Linked DNA regions of Homo sapiens. The protein of the gene in region 2 interacts with the protein of the main gene of each other region in a pairwise test. Each region holds a gene or a part of one and is shown on either strand. Other genes may lie near its edges.

The links.
Region 1: the proteins of TFF2 (region 2) and PDLIM5 interact in binary tests that used the Homo sapiens proteins (3 or more experiments, as listed by UniProt).
Region 3: the proteins of TFF2 (region 2) and ZHX2 interact in binary tests that used the Homo sapiens proteins (3 or more experiments, as listed by UniProt).
Region 4: the proteins of TFF2 (region 2) and ELAVL2 interact in binary tests that used the Homo sapiens proteins (3 or more experiments, as listed by UniProt).

Annotation. Positions count from the first base shown.
Region 1 is NC_000004.12:94,650,942-94,657,968, forward strand, and holds part of PDLIM5 (PDZ and LIM domain protein 5), read left to right. Parts: intron 1-3,518; coding exon 3,519-3,699; intron 3,700-6,485; coding exon 6,486-6,606; intron 6,607-7,027. UniProt on the Homo sapiens protein: May play an important role in the heart development by scaffolding PKC to the Z-disk region. May play a role in the regulation of cardiomyocyte expansion. Isoforms lacking the LIM domains may negatively modulate the scaffolding activity of isoform 1.
Region 2 is NC_000021.9:42,347,978-42,354,933, reverse strand, and holds the start of TFF2 (trefoil factor 2 precursor), read left to right. Parts: upstream 1-3,939; 5' UTR 3,940-3,976; coding exon 3,977-4,055; intron 4,056-4,903; coding exon 4,904-5,053; intron 5,054-6,956. UniProt on the Homo sapiens protein: Inhibits gastrointestinal motility and gastric acid secretion. Could function as a structural component of gastric mucus, possibly by stabilizing glycoproteins in the mucus gel through interactions with carbohydrate side chains.
Region 3 is NC_000008.11:122,966,643-122,973,669, forward strand, and holds part of ZHX2 (zinc fingers and homeoboxes protein 2), read left to right. Parts: intron 1-6,599; coding exon of another isoform or gene 6,600-6,626; 3' UTR 6,627-7,027. UniProt on the Homo sapiens protein: Acts as a transcriptional repressor. Represses the promoter activity of the CDC25C gene stimulated by NFYA.
Region 4 is NC_000009.12:23,760,220-23,767,246, reverse strand, and holds part of ELAVL2 (ELAV-like protein 2), read left to right. Parts: intron 1-2,147; coding exon of another isoform or gene 2,148-2,238; intron 2,239-4,997; coding exon of another isoform or gene 4,998-5,012; coding exon 5,013-5,241; intron 5,242-7,027.

The DNA.
Region 1 (7,027 bases), on a different chromosome or scaffold from region 2:
CATGTACTTAGTAAGGGCTCACAGGACATCGAATACTAGAAGAGATAGCTGAATACTTAATTCCACTCTGCAGTTATCTAGGCCTGTCATTCCTGTTCACAAATGGAAACCCAATCCTACCTGGAACAAGAAGAACTTCTTTAGTGTTAATCCTGTGTTAATGAATTTGTTAAATTAGTCTTTGCTGACACAGAGAAGAAAACACTTTGCTATATGTGAAAGATTAATTTTATTGTTTAATCTGTGCATAATTTCAAGGGCATTGATGGAGAAAGATGCTCTTTCAGGACAGCCAAGAAGTATCAAGTTAGGCCAGTAGTTGCCCTGAGCATGCTTGTTTAAGAAAGGAGATCTGAGAGGAGCAAGGGTCATTTTCAGCTTGTTTTTTAAAGGTGCAGTGGGAATTTCTTTACTGTCTAAAATTCCTTTTGCTATTTGAAAGGAACTAATGAAATATTTTAAAGTCATCCTTTTAATGGACTGTAGTTTTAATTTATGTATTTATAGTGAACTATATTCCAGCAAGTTTGTAAAAAGACTTTTACAGGTATGTGAAATATAAGATAATCTTATAAATTACAAAAGGGGAAAAAGAATGAAATTCATCGATAGGCTCGTTAAAAATGAAGCTAACGTCGAGACTGGACGATACTAAAATAATGACCTGCCCACTTGCCTCTGGTTAGACTGTAAATCTGGCTTTAGGCCTTCTAGTAGTCTACCAAAAATGAAAGGTAGTTTTGCAATTTACAATAAGATAAAAATAAGACTACTGCTGAGGAAAAGCATAATAGTTCTTGCTGCAGAAATCAGGGAGGAATTTTTCTGAATGAGACCATGTGAAAGTGACGCTGGATGAGATCTAACAACACTCCAGCAACAACTTGCAGGAAGAGCAAGGGTGAATTTCATAGAGCTGTGTCCTGTAACAACTACCAGTACAGGTTCATGTATCACAACAAGCACCGTTCATAAAAGGAATAATCCTGCGGGGTGCAGCAGGCCCAATATGCTGTGATTCACAGAACCCAGTTTTCTGATGATCTGACTTGAACTCAATACATATTTTAGAAAATCTGGCAAATGGAATGTATTTTCCTTGGTCAGTTATTCTTAAATGTCTTTTTTTCTTCTCAGATGAACTTTGTCAAATATTTGATAGCATTGATAGACATGTTCCAGGAGCAGAGCTTTTCATTTTGTTCCAGGTACATACCAACACTTATGCTTTAACAGAATGCAGTTTGAAGTTGGATTGACTTCTTTGAAAACTGAGAAGCCAAATAAGAATACTAGCCTCAAGAGTCCTCCAGCCTTATGGATGAGCTAAAGATGTGCCCTAGTAAAAAACTCACCCTAGTAAATGGCTTTGAATCTGTTTTAATGTGCAGCCAGAGAGTAGCATGAAACCCCAAAGCTCTACCATGCTCTGTGTTATGGTCACAGTAAATTGAGCCTGGAAGATTTTTCATGCGTGTATAACCAGTTGCCCACCTGGCGGAAAAACACAGGGCACTCATCAAACTTTGTCTGGCTTTGAGCAGTGTGATTCCTGGTTTATCTTTGCTGATAAACTACTTGCCAAACATACACTGAGAAAATTAGATGAAGGAACTCGTTGAATAGGATTGTTATTTTATAAGTCAGTTGAAAATGATGGACCACTTACCAAAAGTAATATATTCGATTACAGAATAGGTGATCTGTAGCCTTTCTTTTCTGGCAGGAATTAGTAAACAAAGGCATTCCTTATTAGTCATAACAAAATTATGGTACCCTAAAGTTTTAAAAATAATAATAATAAACTGCCTATCTCAAACTTAAGAGAATGATATGTACTAGCTTATACAAAATGGCATCATGTTATTAATAAGAAACAAGTTAACAAAAAGTAGGGCTAGAAAATACCCTCTTACACCCCACGTAAAAATTTTTAATCACTCATCAAGAGCCTTTCTCCTTTTGTGACTCTTGCAGAATTAGGTGCTGATTCTGAGTAAACATCAATATGGTGACAAAGAATTTACAGTGGGAGATAGTTATTGAATAGCAAGGTTTATGTTATTGTCAGAATTTTAAAAATGCTGTGACTTTGCGATACTCATTGCTATGACTTCTCCTGTTAATAATCTGCCTGGAAGTCTGGTGTCTGATGCTTACCAACAATTACCATGTGGTCGCTTAGGGATGATAAGTGATGTTAATGAGGTCAAAGGCAGAATATCAGTTGACTAGAGCGGCATACTAGAAATCAGGAAATTCAACTTCTGGCCTTGGCTGGGTCAGTGATTTTATGATATTTGTCATATCTTTTGAACATTCTGTACCTTGGCTTCTCCATCTGTTAAACTGAATTCATAATAACTGTCCTGGTCTGTCTCACAGGAATGTTGCATGGACAAATTAGATAAGTGTAAAAGTGCCTTGGAGGTAAAGCTGCTCTATGAATATAAATTAGTGTGATATAGCTACTGAAAAGTATGTTGCAGAGGCTAGAATGGTTAGTCTCTGCAGGCTTCATGACTAGATAAGGCTTCATAATGGATTCCTGCCAAGCAAACCAAGCCCATCTTATCAGTTCATGACCATAAAGTATTTAATGGGGAAAAAAATCTCTTACAAACATTTGTTACCTTGATACAAATGTGTGTTAAAAATCGGTCATGTTGGGGAGGGGGGAGAGGGAAGTTGGTGCACAGTGGGTATAAAATTTCAGTTATACAAGATGAATAAGTTCTAGAGATCTGCTGTACAACATTGTGCCCATAATTAACAATACTACATTGTACTCTTAAAAATCTGTTAAGAGAGTGGATCTCATTTTAAGGGTTCTTACCACAATAAAATTAAATTTTTGAAATAAATCAGTCATATTTGAGTGAAATGAAACCTTTCTGAGTAGTTTCAGACAATTGATAATACCTAGTTTACAGTTCCTGTAGTCATTTTGGAGGGTGAGGACTTGATGTGTTTAGTAAAGTTGAGAAATAAATACATGAAAGAATGTGTGGGGAAGAGAAATTGTGGGGAAGAGAAATTGTCTCAGGTAATAGTTATTACTATTTTTAGCACTATGACTTACCAAATTGAAGTTTTTGTTTGTTTCTTTTGTAGAAGTGTCAAAGTCTCATCTCTGCCTAAACCATATATTTTTTTCTGGTTGCCTCATGTTCTGTCACAGTCACAGTTAACATCCTCATTCTCAATCCTACCCATGATGCAGACAGATTGCCTCATTTCAGCTCAATAAAACATCACCAAATTCCCTTAGGCAGAAAAAGGGTGGGGAGTGCCCTTTCTTGAAGGAATCCCTTAAGTGCACGTCTCCCGTTTTCTTTTCACATCAATGCAGAGTCCCTCTGTGAATTTACAACACCCAACACCCATGAGTTCAGTCCTTAAGAAGGAAAATTGAGCAAGTATTTAATTGGTTGGACATTGCATAAAAGAGGTCCATATCCAGGCTAACTCTAGAAATTTTATTCTCAAACTTAGTTGGCCTCTTTTTCTTCTGTCAGAGGACCATTCTTAGTGGCACTGGGGAAATCTTGGCACCCAGAAGAATTCAACTGCGCTCACTGCAAAAATACAATGGCCTACATTGGATTTGTAGAGGAGAAAGGAGCCCTGTATTGTGAGCTGTGCTATGAGAAATTCTTTGCCCCTGAATGTGGTCGATGCCAAAGGAAGATCCTTGGAGTAAGTATTGGAAACGTTTTTATTCTGAATGAGTTTTAAAGTAGAATAATTTTTTGATATGAAAGTCTTCTATCACTTTAACTTTTTATTTTCTTCTTGCTTTATGCCCTCTCTGCTTTCGGCACTATTTATTATTGTAAAGCAAAACTAAATAGACCTCTGTGGAAATATATCGGACTCATGGGGTTAGGTTGTCTTTGGTTTTGTCTCACTGAGTGCTGGCTTGTCTGGTGAAAGTCTAGCCACTGTGGGGAAAAAATAATTTACTGTGGGTGTGCTTCCTCAACAGGAGCCTGTTTGCTCAGGAATGAAGAGGTCGCATAGGACCACACACATCTGAGTTCTTAGAACTGACACCTTCACTGTTTTAAATTAAATTCCATAGCTTTTATAAGAGCAGTATTTCCCTACTTGTCAGAGTTCAAGCACAGGACACTGATTTCATGAAATATATAAAACATGAGGTTTATAAATGATATATTTTTCTTGAATACATACAGTGTTTAAAAATATAACCTCAGTTTTATGAGAGTGCACATGTGATGGAAAAATAATTTTTTTTCCTTTTTTGCAAAAAAAGGAGTAATTTAGGAATCAGATACAGTACATAATAAATAATGAATACATGAATTTCTTGCTCTGGAATACCTAGTTTCCAATGATAAAGTAAGGGTCAGGCATACTTTATGGTGACTAGGAGCTGGAATCTGATTTCAGAAGAAGCCAGAGTACCTGGCTTCACACAAAAATTGGACATGGCCCTGCTGAACTCTAATATACTCTCAATGTGAAAATATGATAATGAAACTCTAATTATTGTTAATTGAGAGAATAGGTAGTATGAATTATTGAGTAGTCTTAAGATATCTCTTAGGATATCCTTAAATATGTCTGAAACGTTGAAGACACTTAAAATTATATATATGTCACCTGAAATATTTCTAGATTATTGATTTGTGTAATATGTTGGGAACAAAGAAGTGGAATGGTTCAGACTGTACCTTCCCAAATGATAACAAATAATTAATAGAATATTCATTAATACTGTTTTAGTGTATCAAGGTATTCTATAAATGTTAGAATAACAAAACAAAGTGAAGTTAGAGTCTTAGACCCAAATAAAGTTCTGGGAAATGGAAATCTCATACTCATTGCCTTGGAGATGGGCCAGAACTTCAATAGCTTGTCTAGATTGTATTTTAGTTATTTGATTACCTGTTAAAGATTTCTCTCAAGGATGGAAAGGGAAGAATATTCTGGAAGCCTTGGGAGATAGTTTGATTCAATATACATCTTCTACAAATGTTCATGGTGAATTTTTTGGATCTAAATGTCTGTTTCTTCCCATTGTCCTTCAGTAGTGAACTGTGACAATTTCTATGGCTAATAAGTCTATATTATTTCATTTTATTTTGATATTTTTTATAAAAGAAAATAGTTCACTCAAGCACAATTAGAAAACACAAAAAATTTAAAGAATAAATTTAAATGACCTAAATATTTACCAATCACAGATAATTACTGTTAACCTTATGATGTGTTTTTTTCTAGTTTGCTCTTTATAAGTAATGTGTTTACAAAATTGTAATCATGCTTTATGTATATGATTTTTTGTGATAAATATTATAGAAAGAGTATTCACTACTCATCCAAAATTATTTTAATGGCTCCATCTTTCTCTCAATCCAAAGAAATGATTTCTTGTAAAACCAACACCCAAAACCTCTTTTACTAACTAATATCTGGCCCAAATCTTTATAACTTGGTATGTTTAACCATTGGGCCATTGCTGACTAGAATATGGTCCAAATTTTACACATTCGAGTCTGTGCTTAGTGCCATCTTAGCTGATTTCCAAAAGCCTAAACACGTGTTAAACTGATTGGATTACATTATATTTTTATTATATTTTATTACATTATATACATTTATATACATTATATACATGTAATATATACAACTATATATAATTATGTATATTTTATTATTTTTATTTATTTATTTATTTTTTTGAGACGGAGTCTTGCTGTGTCACCCAGGCTGGAGTGCAGTGGCGCGATATCGGCTCATTGCAAGTTCCACCTCACGAGTTTATGCCATTCTCCTGCCTCAGCCTCCCAAGTAGCTGGGACTACAGGCACCCACCACCACGCCCAGCTAATTTTTTGTATTTTCAGTAGAGACGGGGTTTCACCGTGTTAGCCAGGATGGTCTCGATCTCCTGAACTCGTGATCCGCCCGCCTCGGCCTCCCAAAGTGCTGGGATTACAGGTGTGAGCCACTGCGCCCGGCCCCATTATGTTTTGTTATTAAATTATATATATTATATTATTGCTTCTAAAATGCACCAAAGTATAGGTTTGTTTTAATTTTTAAATGCTTCCTCCTTCCCCCAGAACTTTTGCAGATAATACCATAAAACCTTGGTAAGTTAATGTTTCCTGACACCCTTTGAGAAGAAGCAGAAAGTTTTGTAGCAAGCATTTATGAAATGCTTACTTTATTCACTGTACATATAATGTATAAATAACATAGTGATCATTCTTTAAGTTTATTGATTGGCATTTGTAAAGAACACACGTCTAAATATGCATCCGTTTAGATGATTTGTGAGTCTGTTCTTAAGTATCTCTTGTTACTTTGAGGGAAAGCTCAAGACAAAAATGAAGTATGTGTGCCTACTTTGGATTAGCTCTACAGGGATTTACTGGTACAGATATTAGAATAAACATTTATGTATTTATTGTCATCTTCTTTTTTTACATCCAATTACCTTTCTGTAACAGGAAGTCATCAGTGCGTTGAAACAAACTTGGCATGTTTCCTGTTTTGTGTGTGTAGCCTGTGGAAAGCCCATTCGGAACAATGTTTTTCACTTGGAGGATGGTGAACCCTACTGTGAGACTGGTAAGATCAGGGAGCCATTTGTTTCTTGAATTTTGAATAAAGGTAAAACATTAACCCTTATATTACTATAAAGCTCAAGAAAATATTAGGCAAAGTTATTTTCTTAATTGTTTTGGAAGCATTTAATGCTGCTCTAAGCATGTAGAAAAAACTATGTAGATTTTTTTTTTTCTTTTGAGACGGAGTCTCACCCTTGTTGCCCAGACTGCAGTGCAATGGCCCAATCTCGGCTCACTGCAGCCTCTGCCTCCCAGGTTCAGGCGATTCTCCTGCCTCAGCCTCCCGAATAGCTGGGAATACAGGCATGTGCCACCATGCTCGGCTCATTTTGTATTTTTAGTAGAGACAGGGTTTCGTCATGTTGGCCCGGCTGGTCTCGAACTCCCGACGTCAGGTGATCCACCTCCCAAAGTGCCGGGAT
Region 2 (6,956 bases):
TTCTTTCAATCTTTGAACATTTTATGCCATGTCTAAGTCTGTTTTTGTTCACTGATTTTTCTAATGATTATGGGCCATATTTCCTAGTTCTCTCCACACATCTAGTAACTTCTGATTTTCTGTTAGACGTTAGGGATGTTATGTTGTGTATTTAGGTTTTGCTGTCTTCATTAGTAAAGTGTTGAATGCTTTGCTCTCTCAGGTAGTGTTATCGGTTGAATTATTTCCCCCAAATTCATATATGAAGCCTTAAATTCCATTACCTAAGAATGTGACTACATTTGGAGACAGTGTCTTAAAAGGGGTAATCAGGTTAAAATGAGGCTCTTAGGGTGGGCCCTGGTTCAATTTGACTGGTGTCCTTATAAGAAAAGAGTCGCCAGAGATGTGCGTGCACAGAGGAAAGACCATGTGAGATATGGGGAAAAAAAGCCATCTGCAAGCAGAAAGAGGCCTCAGTAGAAACCAGATGTGCTGACACCCTATCTTGGACTTCTGGGCACCAGAATTGTGAGAAAGTACACTTCTGTTGGTTAAGCTACACAATGTGTAGTATTTTGTTACAGCAACCTGAGTGAACTAATACAAGCAGTTAATTTACTTGCAGGTTAACTTGATTCCTGCAAGACTTGTTTTAAAGTTTTGTTCGAATGGATTTTGAGTAGCTTTCCTCTAGAAAGATCAGCCTTCTTTTTACGGCATGGCCTTTATTGAATGCTTGAAGTGGTCAACACCTCTGGCTGCTCTGAGCTCAAATGCTTTCCAGCCCCACGAACCCTACACTAGTTGTTCAGTTTAGCCTCCCCAGTGATTGTTCTGTCCCCAGGGGCTACTTAGCCTGGCCTTGTGGGCACGAACAGCATAGTATTTGATGAAAAGCTCAAAGGACACACTTTTATATTTCTGGAGCTTCCTTCTCTTACCTTGATAACCCGCCTGCCTCAGAAGCTTCCAATTCTGACCTCTGTCTCCTCAGCCCGATGGGACTTCAGTGCTATTTGGGTTCCCCTCCCTGTGCTGTAGTCTGGAGAGCGTCTCCAGGAAACCAAGGCAGCCATGGGACTCCCCCTATTGTTTCCCTTCTCTCAGGGATCGCTGTCTGGCACTGCCTGCTGCTCAGCATCTGCAGACTGTTACTTATGTAGTTTTAGAGTTACTCATGGTGGGAGGCTAGCCTGGTACCAGTGACTCCATAGTCAAAAGCGGAAGTCCACATGGGTGATAGCTGAGGTGGTTCCCATTTGTTGACTTTCTATGTGAACTGATGGAAAGTATCATCCCCAAAGTGTGCAAAATGGAAGTGAGCAGGGGTGGAGAAGGATAAACAGAAAGAGGAGGGCGCCAGCCCTGAGTGCCTGGATGGCGCTGAGATCATGCGTTGAGAGTGGCAACAATTCAAGGTAGGTGTCGGCCATGCTAGGCAGATGGCATAGGCACAGAGACAGTGGGAAACAGCAGTGAGGAAGACGGTGGGTGAAGTGAGCACTGTGGAAATCAGGCTGGAGAAGCAGGAAGGAAGGATAGACAGGAGGGGGCTCACAGGGGAATAGGGGATTGGAGGGCTTTAGGATTCAGACAAAGGGAGAATGTTAGGAGCTTAGGACATCCTGGGCAGAAAGGACATTTGCATACCCTCTTTCAGAGGTGGAGCTCAAGTTCTGAGTGTGGTCATGGGAGGGTGGCAGAAGTGGCAGAAGTGGAGTGGAGATGGAAGTTCCTAGAGATGAGGAAAAATAAAATCTGAGCGACTGTGAATTTTGATGAAACATCGACCGCCATGTTGAAGATGGCTGGGATGTGGCCAAGTCTTAGCATGACAAGGAACACAGTGAACTCAGTGCTGAAATTCTTAACGAAAGGGACAGGCTGCACAAAGGTCGGCAGATGACAGCAGGGCAGGGACTCCGGACATGGCGCCCTTCCCAGCCTGCATCTCCAAGGAGGATGGTTTTTGCATGAGGGTGAAGACTTGGGGCTCAAAGTCAATGTCCAGCCCCCAGTCTGAGCCCATGTGATGGGGACGTGGCCACCAAGTACAGTTGTGGAGGTTGTGAACAGCTCCACTTTCAACTAGCGATGCCACTCTATTGCAGACGTCCCATCTCGTGTAATGGTTTCCCAACTCTGTGGGCACTCAGTGTCCCTGCGTGGGGGCCTGAGCAGGATTCCAGGGAAGCATGCCTATGACAACACAGGCTTCCGCCAGGGCCAGGAGAGTGAGAGAGGCTGAGAAGTGGTCTCTTTTGCATGGGTCAGGTGGTCGCAGCAGGAATCCTGAAGGGGCTGCAGTGAGCGGTGGGAAGTCGAGTTGATGGGGAGGAAGCAGAGAGGAGAGGTGGGTGGGAATATGAGAGAAAACAATGACTCAGTCACTTATATCATGATGGTGACTAAAGTGACAGGGATGTAGAACAAGGAAACTGACCTTGCCAGAGTTTTCATGGATCGAGTCCCTGTGGTTGCCCAGTGGTGAACAGTCAGCAGAGAGCCTGGAGGTACTTGACCCGGACCCAGAGGAGCCCTGGAGGATGGAGCCTGGAGGACGGGGGCCTGGAGAATGAGGGTCTGGAGGACGAGGGTCTGGAGGAACAGGGGCCTGGAGGACGAGGGTCTGGAGGAAGAGGGCCTGGAGGACAGGGGCCTGAAAGATGGGGGCCTGGAGGATGAGGGTCTGGAGGATGAGGGTCTGGAGGAGCAGGGGCCTGGAGGATGAGGGCCTGGAGGACAAGAGCCTGGAGGACAGGGGCCTGAAAGATGGGGGCCTGGAGGATGGGGCCTGGAGGATGGGGGCCTGGAGGACGGGGGCCTGGAGGATGATGGCCTGAAGGATGAAACCTGGAGGATGGAGCCTGGAGGATGGAGCCTGGAGGATGAGGGCCTAGAGGATGGGGGCCTGGAGGACAGGGGCCTAGAGGATGGAGCCCTGGAGAATGGGGGCCTGGAGGATGGAGCCTGGGGGACGAGGGCCTGGAGGATGGGGGCCTGGAGTATGGGGCCTGCTCTCCAGACCCTGAGGACAGCCCCGTGGTGGACCAAGGATTTTGGGTTTCCTGCGTCTCTGGGCCCCTGACTGCTCAACCATCAGAAACAGACTGGCAACCCCCTGTCATTTCCCTGGCGTGGGGAACTTCGGGTCCCCTCTGTCCTTCCCACCACACTTTTCCCTCTTTCTTTCCGGGTGTCTACTCTCTGGCTTCTGTCTTCTCTGTCAGGTCCACAGAATCCTTCTCCAGCACATCCTACCCCAGGAAGGCCATGGGCTGGGTCCCAGGTGCCATCTTTCAGAAGATGTAGAGCATTCCCATGGAACAAAAATAACCCATTTCAGGGGTTGGCTGAAAATGAACTTATTAAAACCTGCCTGTCACAGGCTACTCCGCTGACCCTGTCAGCCTCATCTCCATGGAGAGCAGCCCCTCCTGCTGAAGATGGGACAAAGGGCATCGTGCTGCGGTTGGGGAGGCTCTAACCACAGCCCTGGGAGCAGTCTCTTACCTCCTCTGAGATGCTTCCCTTCCTCAGGGAGGGGACTTTTCCATGCTATCTGCTGGCCTGTACATTTTCCCCAGTAAACTTGGCCCTAATATTTTCTAAATTCCTGTGGTCCCTGCCCACTCTATCAATAGAAATGCATAGCTTATCCCTTCCTGGGTGTGACCCTGTGTGTGCCCAGCCCCAGACCTGCACGTGGCCGGTTTTCCACGCTGGCAGCCTGGCATGACCCAACTCTCTGTCCAGGGCAGGAAGAGGTATCACCGAGCAGGGAGAGAGTCACCCTGGCCCGGAAGCCTCGCCTGCACAGGGCACAGCTGCCTCTTGCCTCCTCTTCGCCTCCACGGTGGAAGGGCTGGGGCCACGGGGCAGAGAAGAAAGGTTATCTCTGCTTGTTGGACAAACAGAGGGGAGATTATAAAACATACCCGGCAGTGGACACCATGCATTCTGCAAGCCACCCTGGGGTGCAGCTGAGCTAGACATGGGACGGCGAGACGCCCAGCTCCTGGCAGCGCTCCTCGTCCTGGGGCTATGTGCCCTGGCGGGGAGTGAGAAACCCTGTAAGTGAAGGAGAGGGTCTTTTTATGTGCTTTCTTTATTTCTCTTAAAGAAAAAAAAAAAGCACAACCATAAATTAACTTGAGAGGGGGAATGGCTATAAAGGCATCTGGCAATGTGTGTTGTTCACATGGGATTTGCCACTGCTCAGGAGGGTGGCTCCAAGAAGGGCCTCCCTCCTAGGGAAAGGCTGAGTGACGGCAGGTGTCAGCGGGCCCCGTGTCGGGCCAGGAGGGCATTCCCACCAAGGGTCCTTGGAGTCCCAGAGCACTCACCTCTCGCCTGGATCTTGGCCTTGGGTCCATCTGTTCACCCTCCTCTAGGAGGGTTTTGTTTTTGTTTTTTTCCGAGACAGGATCTGGCTTTGCCGCCCAGGCAGGAGTGCAGTGGTGTGATCTTGGCTCACTGCAACCTCTGCCTCCCAGGCTCAAGTGATCCTCCCACCTCAGCCGCCTGAGTAGCTGAAACCACAGTTGTGGACCATCATGCCCGGCCAATTTTTTTTTTTGTATTGTTTGTAGAGATGGGGTTTCGACATGTTGCCCAGGATGGTCTTGAACTCCTGAGCTCAAGCAATCTGCCCGCCTCGGCTTCCTAAAGTGCTGGGATTATAGGTATGAGCCACCATGCCTGGCTTTTTTTTTTTTTTCCTTTTAAACTAATATAACAATTTCAGCAAAGCCCTATCGGCTTCTCAGGAGGAAACCGCATTGCTTAAATATGGGCAAGATAAGACTTTGTGTTTCTCTATGTGGCAACAAGACAGTAGAGGCATCCCCTAGAACCTCTGAGAGAAGGAGCAGTGTGGTCTGGGGTACCAGGGTGGGGCCGACTGAGGGTCTTTCCACAGCCCCCTGCCAGTGCTCCAGGCTGAGCCCCCATAACAGGACGAACTGCGGCTTCCCTGGAATCACCAGTGACCAGTGTTTTGACAATGGATGCTGTTTCGACTCCAGTGTCACTGGGGTCCCCTGGTGTTTCCACCCCCTCCCAAAGCAAGGTAATCTTCCAGGGAATCTTCCTGGGCCAGCAGCTGGCAACCCAGGACCCAGCTTCACAGGCGGAGCCCAGAGCAGGGGCCGGAGGAGGCCCAGTTGCTAGTCTAGGGTTAGCCTGGGTGGGTTAGTCTCGAGCTAGCCCCGGTTGGTTAGTCTGGGGCTAGCCCAGGTTGGTTAGTCTAGAGCTAGCCCAGGTTGGTTAGTCTGGGGCTAGCCCAGGTTGGTTAGTCTGGGGCTAGCCCAGGTTGGTTAGTCTAGGGCTAGTGTAGGCTAGTTAGTCTAAGGCTAGCCCAGGTTGGTTAGTTTGGAGCTAGCGCAGGTTGGTTAGTCTGGGGCTAGTAGCCCAGGTTGGTTAGCCTGGAGCTAGCCCAGGTTGGTTAGTCTAGGGCTAGCGTAGGCTGGTTAGTCTGGGGCTAGCCCAGGTTGGTTAGTCTGGAGCTAGCCCAGGTTGGTTAGTCTGGGGCTAGTAGCCCAGGTTGGTTAGTCTGGGGCTAGCCCAGGTTGGTTAGTCTAGGGCTAGTGTAGGCTAGTTAGTCTAGGGCTAGCCCAGGTTAGTTAGTTTGGAGCTAGCACAGGTTGATTAGTCTGGGGCTAGTAGCCTAGGTTGGTTAGTCTGGAGCTAGCCCAAGTTGGTTAGTCTAGGGCTAGCATAGGCTGGTTAGTCTGGGGCTAGTAGCCTAGGTTTGTTAGTCTGGAGCTAGCCCAGGTTGGTTAGTCTAGGGCTAGCGTAGGCTGGTTAGTCTAGGGCTAGCCCAGGTTGGTTAATCGGAGCTAGCCCAGGTTGGTTAGTCTGGAGCTAGCCCAGGTTGGTTAGTCTGAGGCTAGTAGCCCAGGTTGGTTAGTCTGGGGCTAGCCCAGGTTTGTTAGTCTGGAGCTAGCCCAGGTTGTTTAGTCTGGAGCTAGCCCAGGTTGGTTAGTCTGGGACTAGCCTGGACTGCTAGTCTAGAGGTAGCCTAGAGGACTGCTAGTCTAGAGGTAGTCTAGGGCTAGCCCAGGTTGGTTAGTCTGGGGCTAGCCCATGTTGGTTAGTCTTAGACTAGCCTGGACTGCTAGTCTAGAGGTAGCCCAGGTTGTTTAGTCTGGTACTAGCCTGGACTGTTAGTCTAGAGGTAGCCCAGGTTGGTTAGGTTGGTTAGTCTGGGACTAGTCTGGACTGTTAGTCTAGAGGTAGCCCAGGTTGGTTAGTCTGGGACTAGCCTGGACTGTTAGTCTAGAGGTAGCCCAGATTGGTTAGTCTGGGACTAGTCTGGACTGCTAGTCTAGAGGTAGCCCAGGTTGGTTAGCCTGGGGCCAGCCTGGACTGTTAGTCTAGAGGTAACCCAGGTCAGCCAACAGTGAGATGAAAATTTCCCACCTACCCTGTTTCTACACTGTTAGTTCTTTCAACAGACATGTGTGTGTGGAGCCATCAGTTTTACTTTAGTTGAGAAAAAAATATATATATATATAGTAGGTCTCCTCTAGTTTTTGAAGTGTGACTTCTGAAGAAGCTTCCATGGGGAAATGAAGGTATTTAATAGGACAGCAGTAACATAAGGGCTGACAGCCCTCAAATGTTAGGGAAGGAAGTGAAGCCTTCTAGGGTTCTTTGGGAGTGAGTTTTATGTTAGTGCACGGGATCAGGACCCAAGTTGTAACGCCGACGAGTGCTCAAAGGAAGGTTGTGTGTGTGTCGTGCACCTGTGTGCGTGGAACCAGGCACGTCCTCTGGAGAAGGAGGATTCATCCCCAAGATTGTTGCTGGGAGGCTTGCTGGGCCCCGCAGGGAAACCAGGCAGATGGTGGATTGTTCACGAGCGCCCACTGAATGGCAGTGTCTTTGGGAATCAATACCATGTCCAAACGCTTTCCATCTTACCAAGGTGCCCACAAACCTTTTCTCATCTTGGCCCGGGGGACCACCCC
Region 3 (7,027 bases), on a different chromosome or scaffold from region 2:
TTTTTGTGATCAATTTCCTGGGTGTTCTTTGAGCTTTTTGTATTTGGATATCTAGATCTCTAGCAAGACCAGGGAAGTTTTCCTTGATTATTCCCTCAAATAAATTTTCTAGACTTTAAGATTTCTCTTCTTCCTCAGAAGCACCATTATTCTCATGTTTGGTCATTTCACGTAATCCCAAATTTCTTGGAGGCTTTGTTCATTTTTTTTAATTAGTTTTTGTCTCTGTCAAGTTGGGTTAATTCAAAAGCCTTGTCTTCAAGCTCTAAAGCTATTTCTTCTACTTGTTTGATCCTGTTGTTAAAACTTTCCAGTGTATTTTGCATTTCTCTAAATGTGTCTTTCATTTCCAGAAGTTGTGACTGTCTTTTCTTTATGATATCTGTTTCTCTAGAGACTTCATCCATATCCTGTATTGTTGTTTCAATGTCTTTAAATTGGTTTTCACCTTTTCCTGGTGCCTCCTTGAGTAGCTGAATAATGAACCTTCTGAATTCTTTTTCTGGCAATTCAGATTTCATCTTGGTTTGAGTCCGTTGCTAGAGAGCCAGTGTGATCTTATGGGAGTGTTTTAGAACCTTGTTTTATCATATTACCAGAATTACTTTTCTGTTTCCTTCTCATTTAGGTAGACTGTTTCAGTGGAAACATCTGGAACTCAAGGGCTGCTGTTCAGGTTCTTTTGTCCCATGGGGTGATCCCTTGATGTGTTGCTCTCCCCCTTTCTCTAGGGATGGGGCTTCCTGAGAGCCAGACTGCAGTGGTAATTATTGCCCTTCTGGGTCTAGCCACCCAGTGGGGCTGCTGGGCTCCAGGCTGGTGCTGGGGAATGTCTGTAAAGAGTCCTGTGATATGATCCATCTTCAGGTCTCCCAGTCTTGGATACCAGCACCTGCTCCAGTGGAGGTGGCATGGGAGTGAAGTGGACTCTGGGAGTCCTTGGTTGTAGTTTTGTTTAGTGCAGTGGTTTTCTCAAATGCTGGTTACACCAGCAGTAAAATTGCCACATGGACAGACTCAGGACCTCTGGTTAGCCAGGATGTTGCAGGCAGTGGCATTAGCTGTTGTTTGCTCCTTTGAAGCAAGGTTGTTCTGTTATGAGTTGCTGTAATGGCTTGAGTTGGTTGGCCTCCAGCCGGGAGGTGGTGCTTTCAGGAAAGCGCCAGCTGCAGTAGTAGAAGGGGATATAATTCTGCCCTACATTGGCCAGGATGAGTACTCGGGTTTCTTAGGCAATGGACAGGACCACAGAACTTCCAAAAGATTATGTCTTTTTTCTTCAGCTACCAGGGCAGGTAGAGACAAACCATCAGGTGGGGGCAGGGTTAGGCGAGTCTGAGCTCAGACTCTCCTTGGGCAGGGCTTCATGTTAGTTTCTTTATTTAGGGCTGATGAGAAGGCGGTGCAGAAAGGTAGCTCGTGCAAGTCTTTGAGGTAAAAAGTGGTGGAGCTGGAATTCAAATCCACCCCTACACCCACACATGTAAGCACTTTGGGGAATCTGCCCAGTGAGTTTAAAATACAATTCCATTTGCTCTGGTTCTATTAAATTCCCCTGGCCAATATGCACTGATAGGCCAGGAGCAGGAAAGGCATTCCTACTGTCTCTGAGCCTCCCTGCAAGCAGCTTGAGGAATATATACCTGGCCTGTGGGTCTCAGCAAGTTCCCCAACCCTAGAGGCCCTTCAAACCACGCAGGGAAGGAGAGCTTTGGCGGGATGTGGCCAAAACTGACTCAAGCCTGGTGTACAGACAATTTGGGATGGCACGGAGTTTTTGTCATCCACTGGGAAGTTGCTTAATCTTCCTCCAGTCCAACACATTTCCCCTTTTTAAATTCTAGTTAAAAATCAGACTGTGCCCCCTACCCTCAATAAAAGAAATGAAAGTTTGAACTCAAATATTATGAGGCAGGCCAGGCACGGTGGCTCATGCCTGTAATCGCAGCACTTTGGGAGGCCAAGGCGGGTGGGTTACCTGAGGTCACAAGTTCAAGACCAGCCTGGCCAACATGGTGAAACCTCATCTCTACTAAAAATACAAAAATTAGCCAGGCATGGTAGTGAGCGCCTATAATCCCAGCTACTTGGGAGGCTGAGGCAGGAGAATCACTTGAACCTGGGAGGCAGAGGTTGCAGTGAGCTGAGATTGCACCAGTGAACTCCAGCCTGGGCAGCAAGAGCAAGACTCCATCTTGGAAAAAAAAAAAAAGAAAAAGAAATATTATGAAGCAGACCAGACACAGTGGCTCACGCATGTAATCTCAGCATTTTGGGAGGCAAAGCCAGGTGGATCACTTGAGGCCAAGAGTTCGAGACCAGCCTGGCGAACATAGTGAAATCCCACCTGTACTAAAAATACAAAAATTAGAGCCGGGTGTGGTGGCACACACCTGTAGTTCCAGCCATTCGGGAGGCTGAGGCATGAGAATTGCTTGAGCCCAGGAGGTGGGGATTGCAGTGAGCCAAGATCATGCCACTGCACTCCAGCCTGGGTGACAGAGCAAGACTCTGTCTCAAAAAAAAAAGAGAGAGAGAGAAATATTATGGAGCAGTACAGAAATAGACAGTGGAGTGATGTTGACCAGGGGATGGGGCAGGGGGATGTGGGGAATTTTCATACAATGGGTGTAAAGTTGCAGTTATACAGATGAGTAACTTCTGGAGGTATGTTGTACAACATAGTGCCTGTAGTTAATAGGAAGATATTTACTTCAAAATGTGTTCAGAGGGCAGATCTCATGTTATATCCTTACCTCCCCACTGCCCCCCCCAAAAATAGACACAAGCAAACTTTATGTTTGTTACTGGATTGTAGTGACAGTAACATGAGTGTATGCATATGCCCAAACTCACTAAATTACATCCATTATGTGCGGCTTTCTGCAAACGAGTTATACGTCAATAAAGCTAGGGCAAAGAGGGAAAAAATGCAACCAGAAAGAAAAGACGTTGCCTACAGAGAAACTACAGTTAAACTGACAGGTTTGTCCGTATCAAAAATAGAAGCCAGATGACAATGGAACAAAATGTTTAGCAGATAACAGGCACTCGGCAAATGAGCAATAAACCTTGCTACACCTCTCAAAAAAAATGTTATGGAGAGATAATCAATCACTCTCTCAGTGTTTGTTTTCCTTTCTCCTGGAGTGCAGTGTTACTCACTCCCAAGTCCCTAGGGCCCTAGAGAAAGTTCTCCTGGGAAAATTAAAGAGAGACAGAAACAGAAAGCTGTCACATGGGAAAACAATTCTAATGTTTTTGTTTCTCCAATGAGGAAAGTAACAGAGAAGCAGATTTTGCTAAAGAATTAGTACTTCTTAACATTCCAGGTTTTCCCCAAGACAGAAAGGGAGGGTGGGAGGCAGTGGGTTCCTGTCCTGGGACGTGTTCACCGAGAGCCTGGACATCACGTGGTAGAAATGTCCCAGAGGCCATAAGGAAATGCCTGTCCGATGGCCTTGCAGCATCCTCCAGGGCTCTGAGAGGTACTCTAGGATGAGGCACTGGCCCTTTGCTGGGTGACTGTCTCTGACCAGGTAATAGGACTCTGAGAGAAGCCCAGGGGAGTTAGCAAGAGCCACACAGCCCAAAGCACTGCAATGCTCTATAGAACAGCAATCCTGAAATGTGGACTTTGTCACCACCCTTGGGTCACAGCCACTCCTCTGACAGCACTATGCTCACTTTCCATTTTCCATTCATTGACAAATGCCTGTTGAGTATGCTGCATGGGCCAGACTCCACAGGGAGCGGATGGGGGGGTCAGCCTGCTTGCTTTGCACCCTGTCTGTAACCCTGCCAGCAGCCCGTGGGCTCTGTGCAATGGAAGTGAGACTCTGGGAGGTTAAGTAACCAACCTCAGCACGTAGCCAGGAAGTGGCAGATCCTGGATCCCAGCTTTCTCCAACTCCACAGCTCTTTCCACCCCATCCTGCAGTCCTGTGCTGACCCAACGTTCTTTAGCCGGGTTGGGAGAAAGAACATCGGTAGCTGTCTTCCCGCCTTGGGCCTTGTCTCCTAGGATCTGGAAGTGTTCAGGGGGACATCCAATCAGTGGCAGCCTCCCTCCCAAAGGTGGTGGAAGTCCCCATTTGCTGGGGAAAACCCTGTTTCTTGGAAAGCACCGGCAGAGGCTGGCCGTGGGCTACTGTGCCAACCCAGGGAGTGCATGTGGCTCTGCCTGGGATCAGCAATAAGGCTCGTGGTCCTCACTGGGTGCCCCAGCCCCCTACCTTTGAAGCCACCATGCTCTCTTCAATTGCTACCTAGCTCTGTGCATGGAGAGGCTGTGCATGACCTGGACCCAAAATAGGTACAGGGAGGAGCAATTAAGAATCAGGAGGCTCTGAAGTTGGACTGGCCAAGGTGGAGTCGGGCTTCACCACTCACTGGTTACCTAATGTTAAGCACAACATTTAATCTCTCTAAGCCTCCATTTCTTCGCTATGAAGTGGGTCTGCCAATCACCTGCCAGTCACTGTAAGGAGTAGATGAGATGAGCCGTATTACCACTTAGCATGGGGCCTGGTGTGAGAAACTAGCTACTCTCACTGTTGGAGGGAGAGTCATGATCATTCTTGTTTTTGACCATGCCACTGAGCAGGTCCTGGCCTAAGAGAAAGCACTTTTCCTCCTGAGCTTCCTTTTTTTTTTTTTTTTCCTGGTGAAATGAGTGATCTTGACAACATCACCTATAAGGATCCCTGCAGTGTTTACAACTTGGTGACTCTGGCTGGATGACTTTTAGGTAGTCCAGATTCTAAGGTCACCCCTGGAATCTGGTTTTATCTGCAGACTTTTCTTTTATAAATTGGTTTCTTAACTCCAATATTCAATCTTACTCCCAGGAGCATCTAGGGAATGTGGGTGCGTTTAACATCCAGATGTTAGGCATGAATGGCATTATCGATGATCAGCTGATGCCTCTGGCTGAGAAGTCCACTCTCCTTGCTGTTGGCCCCTGTACAAAAAAAAAAAAAAAAAAAAATTCCTTCTCAGGGCTTTCTCAGCCAAACAGCCTTACCAGGAGGGAGGCAAAGAAAAGGCCAGTGGCTCCGAGAACCTACAGATCTGAAAAACTTCTAGCCTGTCATGGAATACTGGCTGTGTCCTCTAGAGACCTGAGCCTTGCTTGGATCCCTTTCCCAGGATCTCTAGATCTTGGGAGGAGACAAAAGTAATGATGGAGACCTGCCCCCATTTCCTCTACCTACCACAAAGTATTGCAAACTGGATGGCTCAAAACAATAGAAGTTTATTGTTTCACAGTTCTGCAGGCCAGAAGACAAAAATCAGGGAGTCTGTGATGGTTGCTTCCTTCTGAAGGCTGTGCAGGAGTCTGTTCTGTGCCCATCTCCCAGCTTCTGGTGTCTGCCGACAGTCTTTTGCATTCCTTAGCTTGTGGATGCATCAGCCCAATATCTGCCTCAATCATCGCATGGTCTCTTCCCTGTGTGTGAGTCTTCACATCTTCCCTCTATGCACATCTGTCTCTGTGTCCAAATTTCCCCCTTCTGTAAGGACACTAGTCATGTTGGATTAGAGTCCACCCTGATGGCCTCATTCTCACTTGATTTAACTGTGTTACCTCTCTAAAGGCATTTCTAATAGGGTAACATTCTGAAGTACTGAGAATCAGGACTTCAATATATACTTTTGGGGGGACACCATTCCACCTATAATAAGGTCCTTGGACTATTTTCATTACTTCCAAGGGTATAAGAATTAAACATTTCTTCCTACTGATTCTTAATAATTCTGTTTATTAAGTGCACGGACTCTAGAGATTACCTGGGTTTGAATCTTGGCTCTGCCACTTACTAGCTGTGTGATCTTGGGAAACTTATTAGGCCCCTATATGTTCAGTTTCCTCAACTGTAAAATAAGAATAATAATAATATTTACACCTCTTAGAATTCATATAAACATTAAATAAAAACACATTTACAATGCCTCATCTTATCACTCTTCTATATCCTACCACGTTTGGAAAAGGCTCCATCTAATAAAAACAGCAGAAGTATCTACAATACTTACCATGTGCCAGGCACTAGTCCAAATACTGTTGTGTACATCAACGCATGGCATCATCGCAGCAACTTTCTAAGGTGGGTGCTAGTGTCATCCCTGTTATACAGAAGCAAAAACTAAGCCCTAGAGTGATCAAGTCCTATAGGTACAGCCCTGCAGCCACTAAGGGGAGAAGTTAGGACCCAAATCCAGATTTGTCTGACTCCAGGGCCTTTTAGGAGCCACTGGGACTGGTTGACTTTCTAGGAATAATAAAAGGGTCTTGTAAGGATGAAAAGAATCACAGGCCACCACCTTCACTTGCCCAGAAAGTCACTCTGTTTTCAAAGGCCTGATTCTGGAGGCTTTTCCTATTATGGCGGACTGTGCTCAGAAAACACACTCGTTTCTTTACAACAGGCCCCGTACATGAAGGGCATGTGTCTCTCTTCCAAGCCCCAGGATGACTTTGGAAGGCCCCCACCCCAACCCAGGAGAGCCAGGAAGAAGCAAACCATGATGCCTTCCCCCCAGGGAACAATGGTCATTTGCCTGACATCTTGACTCTGTGGTTTTGTGTCTTCTAGGGAAGTCTGTTAGAACTGCTGTGCTGATCAACGGGACGCTCCGTCTTTGAAGAAAGAAGAGATGGTCTCTCCCCAGCCATGGGCCACCCTTGCCAGTGACTCCAAGTGGAACTACTTAGCTCGCGTGTGCCTGGAGGGTGCGGGAAGTCCAGCGACTCTCAGACGCACCTCCCAGAGGACCGGTGGGAATTGTTCATAGTGCCAAAGTCCTACTACTGCGTTTTCAATGGGTCCTTGTACATAGTTTGCTCCTCTGCCCTAGCCCTCACCTCTTGCTATACTGGAACCGATTTGTACAATGTGGGAATTTTGTTACCTTTTTAATCAAGGGCAACTTCCTTTTCCAGCACTACCATTGTAAGGTTTTTTTCAGGAGGGAGGGCTAACCACCTTGCTTTTCTCTTTTCTCTTTTTCTTTTTTTTATTTT
Region 4 (7,027 bases), on a different chromosome or scaffold from region 2:
AAATTCATAAAGGATTATTTAAATAAAAAGTTTAGAAGTCTTTATGGCTTTTTGGAAGTACCTGTGTGTATAAAAGTAGAGACAATCTTCTATTTCCCAATAAAACCTACGCTTTCACCATAGTAACAGCCATTTTACCTTGGAGCCCAGTGAAAGTTTAGAATATTCTAGATTCATCTATGCTAAAGTGCCTTTTCGTAAATTATTACTTGGATAATAACAGGAGGAAAAGCAGTCTGAATTGGCACAAGTGATGTCTAAATTAAGAGGAGAATATATATTGAAACATTATTTTTTTAAGCCTTAAAATTAATGGCTCTGTTTCACTGGAATATGGCCTTTTTTTTCTTTCCGAAGAGTTTCAGAGCCAGTGGAATCTATAAATAGTACACAGCCCAGTTGTCTGTGGTAGATTGAGTAGAGCAGAATTGCCTGTCCTTAAGTGAAGGGGAAGTAGCTTTACATTTTTAGTAACTGAATTGTTGGCCAGCATAAAGGTAAGGGCCATGTGAGCAACTTATTTATAACTTCCCATAAAGGTATGTGTCTGCCTCAAGCGGAGAAGACTGTCTGGGGTGCTTGAAATGTAAAAGTGCAGTAGAATCATTTTCCATACACAGCCTTCCTATCTAGTTGGTGCAATAAAGTGATTGTTCACCTCCCTGGGGCTTTCAGAAAGAGGGGTGTCAATAGATTAGCTCATTAGTGTCCACCTCCTATGAAATAGAAGGGACTGAGGCAGTTAAATTAAAATCTGTTTTATGTAGTGAGCAATGTTTAGATTGAACTCCTGAAGGTATTCAGGACATACATTTATGCCTGCTTTACCCTGCTGGGTGTGGTCCTGCTCATGTAGTCTTAACTACAGTTGGGTTCTTATGAAAAATCTTTCATGGGTGTAAAGCACTTTTTCACAGGTTCAGTTAAACTATAAGTAGTTTTTTGAAAAATAACATAGGGTCAGACCAAAATCTCTTGTTACAGTGGGAGAACGGAAGAAGAGTAAAATATTTTCATGGCTTCCTGTAAAAAAGTATGTTAATCCTTTTTGATAGATGCCAGAAAGTGGAATCCATCGTTACTGGCGGCATTGCTAATATCAAGAGTAAATCACAGCCAGGATTGCCTCTCAGGATAAAATTTTTATAATTATCAATAAGTAAAAGACATTTTTGGACCTCTTCTGTTATTCACTGTCTATTTTTAGAAACTAAGTTTTCTGATTATATTGACCATTTGAAGCATCTGCATATATGGCAAAAAAAGTAAACTTTGGCTTTTGTGCCAATATCATGGCTCTGTTTGGTATTTGGGCAAGTTTCAATAAGTGGTAAATGGCCCATTAACTATATTGGAGGCCTCATAGCAGCACTAATTTCAAATCGTGCTGGGTTTACAATTTACATATTAAAAAATGTTCACTTGATTTCGTTCAGGGACAAAGCTGACATCCTATGCGAGCATTACTCCAAACAATCCTATTTATCGGTCCAATTATTTCAATTGAAAGATGCTGGTTTACTGCCTCTTAGTATATGTGAGCAATTCTCATTGAAACTGTTAGAAACCGTTTGACTGTAGTGGCAAAATAACCTCACAGGGTTTCGATTCACTTTTAATTTTAAGTCCCAGGATTAAGGATCATTTATAGTATAATGTAACAGTGTGGGCAAATATAGCTTCTCTTAATGTCTTTCTGATATTTTGGGGAAAGAGTGCTTTTATGCAAACCAATCACTTAGGAATTGCATGATGACTTTTTCCCACTATAAAATTTCATTCACATTTCCTCCCTTCTCCCACATCCTTAAGAGATAAGACAGCCTGCAGTATTTTGCTTTATTTTACTTTATTTTTTAAATTTTTGAGGTGTGGTTTACATTAGTTCTTCAGAATAGATGCCAAGATAACTAGTTAATACTGTTTTAAAATCAGGCTCTTAATTAAAAATGCTTATATTTGTGCAAGAAAACTACATGTTGAAATGAATTTGGAAAGATTAGATTGGAATTGCCTCAATTTCAATTAAGCCACACTGCATGGACGTGCTGGGAATATCAATACAATCACTGTAAATTTTGTACAAACTGATTTGTTGCATTATCTTGCTCATCTAACATACGGTACTTTTTGTGTCCATATTGCAGACGGCAACTCCAAACTAACATGGCAGTCAGACTGTGTGATGTGGCTTCTCTGCTTAGAAGTGGTTCGTGGGCAGCAGAGCCTTGGACCGGGGTCTGTGGGATTTTTCTTAAATTCTGTAGGCTACTTTTTTTTAGCATGTTGGAGGAGTGCTGAGGCCATACCAAACACTTGAATCTTTCATTTGGCATACTAATTATTCTTACATTTAACCTATTGTGGTATGGCCATCATTAGGACTTAAAGCACATTGCAATTTTAACTGTAGTGGTGTATGTAGCATCAGAACCATGCTCTCGTATGTAATTTTTTTACAATCTAAATTAGGATTTAGCGCAGACTCAAAAGAGTGACAAGCTTTTTTAAAAAAACAAAAAAAGTTTTGGTATGGTCTGAATACTAAGTTACCGTAATTCTATACATTCTGTTTACTATGTATTTTTTTGGTTACTAAATTTTGAAGTTATTTACAATTCTTTATGCTCCAAAAAAAAAGTTGAAATTGTAAATCTGGCTGAAAATTATTTGCCCAGTAACTGTTGAAAGAGTTTGCATTCTGTGAACAGTTGTGTTGAGCCTATCAATGGAATATGCATTATTTGTAAAATATAGCACATTAGTATCATTTTATTCTGAGCAGATGGTCCTATAGCAGAGAGATGCTGTAATTTTCAGCGCACACAGCCTACTGCAGCTGTTCACTTGAATGTTGGCTTAGGAGCTCATTCTTGCCACCTGAACATGGAAATAAATGTGCAATTAAGTGAGGAGTGTTTGTTGTCCTTTCTAAATCTTGCTGATTTCAGTCAATGAACACTTTGTATTTCAAATGCTATCCCAATGAGCTTTAGTCCGAATCTCCCATTCGGGTCTCTTGTAGTTTCTACACCCATCCAAACTTTTCAGTAGTGATTTAAGTGTCTTTGGCCACTTTAATCTTGTAGCTCATTGTTTCCATAACTGCTGGGCAAGGGTTAACCCCAGAAGAATTTTTGCTGTGAAAAGAGTGACCCACAGCTAATATTCTACAAACCAGAACAGTTATGTTTAATTAGGAAATCTGAAACTTCCCTTTTCAAATTCAAATAGATTTGCTAATTATAATAAAACCCATATCTTGAATTATTTAAGATTTTTAAATACAGATTTCCAAAGGTTTATTTTCCTTCATCCCTTTAAGTATTCCCTGAGAAAACTTAGCTTACGTAGAGAAACAGCTTGCAGCTTGTAGAATAAATTCCCACTTCTTTGACAAGGAAATGAAGTCACAGAGGGGTTACAGGTTGTTGGATATTTCAAAAGCTATTCTGGATTTTGCCTCATGTTTTTTTATCATGACAGCACTGATTCTTGTTCAGTCTGACCAGTCTCAATATGTCCAACACTGCCTTCTTTTGTAAACATCTCCTGGCAGTAGAGATTTCTTCCTATATGTTTATCTGCTAATGTGCCCTTTTATTTTTCTTAGGCAATATGTGTTTTAAAAGACAGTTTTTTCTCTTTCCTTGTAACCCTCTTTCCCTTTACTTTGCTTTTTTTCTTTGCCTCAAGTTCTTTGCCTTTTCTATGTTAAAGCTTCCCTAAAACTAGCATCCCGTCAATTCAGAATTGTCAGTTTTGAGAAGCAGTTCTTTGTGGAGGTGAGAGATGTATGCAATATGAAGGATAATCCTTTCAGTGATGCGTTGATTTTTAGATTCCACCACAGTCTTGGCTGTCCAAAGATAGGTAGTTAGTGGAAAATGATTTTGGAAAATTTGGGGCTGTGGTTTGTGACTCTTTTGCATAGGATTGGTTTTAGGAAACTAGATTTAATACTGCTTAATAAGTGATTTGTAGAGTAGCCTGAACAGTTTGAGGCCATTTTCCCCAATTCTGTTCTTTATCTGGTGTTTGGAGTTTATAGATACCCTATTACTTGCATTTTCAACAGGCTTATGTGCTCAGACGAGAATTCCTTGGGCTGGTCTGTTTGCAAAAGTTGATATATTTACATTGTTGTTTTCATTGACTGGATAGGTTTTCTTTTTTCTCATTAAAAAGCAGAGTCAAGGAGAAACACCATATCGAAGTGTTTGGGGATTTTATTTTGATGTTGTAGATCAGTCACCTTGTTGGTAATTTTTAGCTGCCAAGGTTGACAGGAGTGTCCTATTAGATTCTACCAGTTAGACAAAGTATTCATAGCTCATTCCCAAGTTACCTTACAGTTAGTTCCTTTCCACTCCCTAAAATATAGCATCTGTTTTTTTCTTACCAATGGTAGAGATAAGATATTGTCCATCAAAAACGTTTTCAATATGTAACCAAAACAGTACATGTTGACAAATTTATATTTTTAAAAGTACTCTTGCTCTTTGATTTTTAAGTTAATGGCTATCTGTCAGTTTTAGAATATTGAACCTCTTAGGATAACTGAAAATCTCTTCAGAGTTAGGTAGGTCATTTTTTTGTTCATTTTTGTAGCATGTTAAGCACTTTTATTTTCTAGTATGATTTTTAGTTAGGGTTCAATTCTGTGCCCTTTGGTACTTGATTTTCTCATCTGTGGACACTGCAGGTGAGTAAGGATATGTGAATAGACCCAGAATGTGATTCTAGAAAATGTTTAAGATTTAAATTGTGCTTATATGCATGTATGGAATATGTATGTGAAAATATAGTTGTAACCTTAAGATGAATAGGTTAATATGAAGTGAAAATTAGTGTAGGTATTACACTTTTTGTTGAAGCATTGTTGTAATTTCATTAGAACGACTTGTGTTTAGTGACAAGTGTTTAAATTCTTGGATGGAGTCTCTAATAGGTTGTGAAATATGAATTCTGACATTTCTTGTTTTCTCTGTTTTTAGCAGGTAATTGCTGCCATGGAAACACAACTGTCTAATGGGCCAACTTGCAATAACACAGCCAATGGTCCAACCACCATAAACAACAACTGTTCGTCACCAGTTGACTCTGGGAACACAGAAGACAGCAAGACCAACTTAATAGTCAACTACCTTCCTCAGAACATGACACAGGAGGAACTAAAGAGTCTCTTTGGGAGCATTGGTGAAATAGAGTCCTGTAAGCTTGTAAGAGACAAAATAACAGGTAAGCAGTTTTATGTAGATGATTTATATTTAACGGATCGTGTCTCAAGATAGGAGAAAATAATAAGATTACTGCTTGTAAATAATTCACTGCTGCAATTTTACATATCTAGATTTTCTCTCTGTTATTACATCAGCAATATGAAACTTAGTTTAAAATTTTCTTTTTAAATCATAAACTATTTTGGGGGCAGTATATATTTTAACTGGACTTTAATGTACTCTGATCTGGACAGGATCTTTGGAAAATCTTCTAAAAGTATATGTATCTGGGATAGCCAGTGTCATGTTAACTTTTATCTTTTAGTACCCTGAGTGTATTTAAGTTAGCATTTCAACAGTGAGATACAATATGTGTTTGGGAGAGGGGAAAAAATCTTAAAATGTGTTTTCCTTATGTTAATATAATCATTTTGCTTATATATGATAAAATAAATGGTAATGTTCACATTGTCAGTGTATAAACATTTTCACTGATATAATACCAAGCGTGATGAGATCTTATGTTCCGTTCCTTAACAAGGAAAGGACATGGTATATGATTGTCCTTCTTGTTATAAAGATAAAGCCTTAATTATAGTACATTTTGAATATTAGGTGAAAATCTCCTTAGTATTTTTTAAGATTTGACTAAATTTTTAGAGTAAACCAAAACCTAATTTAAAGAGCACGTTCTTGGGATAGAAGGGTTAATGCTTCCTGCAGGAGTTGTTTTCAAACACTAAAAATACATGAAGTTAGACATACATATGAAGTTAAACACTAAAAATATACGAAGGTAGACAGACTCTGTGGACTTTTCATGTTAATTAAATTTGATTGATAGTGTATACCAAATTGCTTTACAAAGCTTATAACCAAAAATATAAAATGGAATATTTGAAATGAGTAAAAGATACTTAAAGGCAGTGTGAAGAATGAGACCAGGAGTCTGAACTCTCACCTAGTCATGTGACATTGGATAAGTCAGCCCTAGACTTCTGGTTTCCATTGGCAAAATAAGGTAAAAGGCAGAGAAAAAGGGGGTAACACTGGGCCATTTCTAAGTTCACTTTTGACTTTTTCATACATGGGACTTTGAGCTATTCCGTTAATCGTTAGGGCTCATTCTCTCCAAGATCTGCAAGTGAGTTCTAGAGCCAGCCCCTGGACTTGGCTCATAATCATATTTCCTCAAGCTACAGATTGAGATTCACAGAGACAACTTACTGAAATCAAGTTAAAAAGCTAAGTACAAACTGATTGTCATTGATCCATAGCAAACGGCCATTATATTTTAATTATGTTGCTTAAATGTTCACTATGATATTAGGAAGGTGGTTCTTATGTTTCTGAACACTGATAATCAGATGGATGAGATTTTTCAATTTCTTTTCCAAAATGAGTGTGATAAGCATATGTGAAATTTATAGTGTTTTTAATAAGTTGAAAAAGGTGAAGAACAAAAGGCTGCTCTTACGTCTCTGTCGTGATGTTTTTAAACATCTTTTTAACATGTTTTAAACATGTTATCTTTTGTTTTTAAAGTAAAACAACACCCCTGACATGTGGATTTTGCAACCTTTTTAATATAAAAGATAAAAATATGATAAATGACTTGAGGGCTATGACACAAATGATGCAATTTCTGATTGCTTAGTAGAGCTCCCCTTACTATTAAAAAGAAAGATGCATGAACAGAGCACAAAAGTCATGTTTTGTTATGAAACTGTTACGAAATGATACATTTTATCATTTTATAAGATGAAAATATTAGACAAATCATACATCTTTCATATTAGGCATCT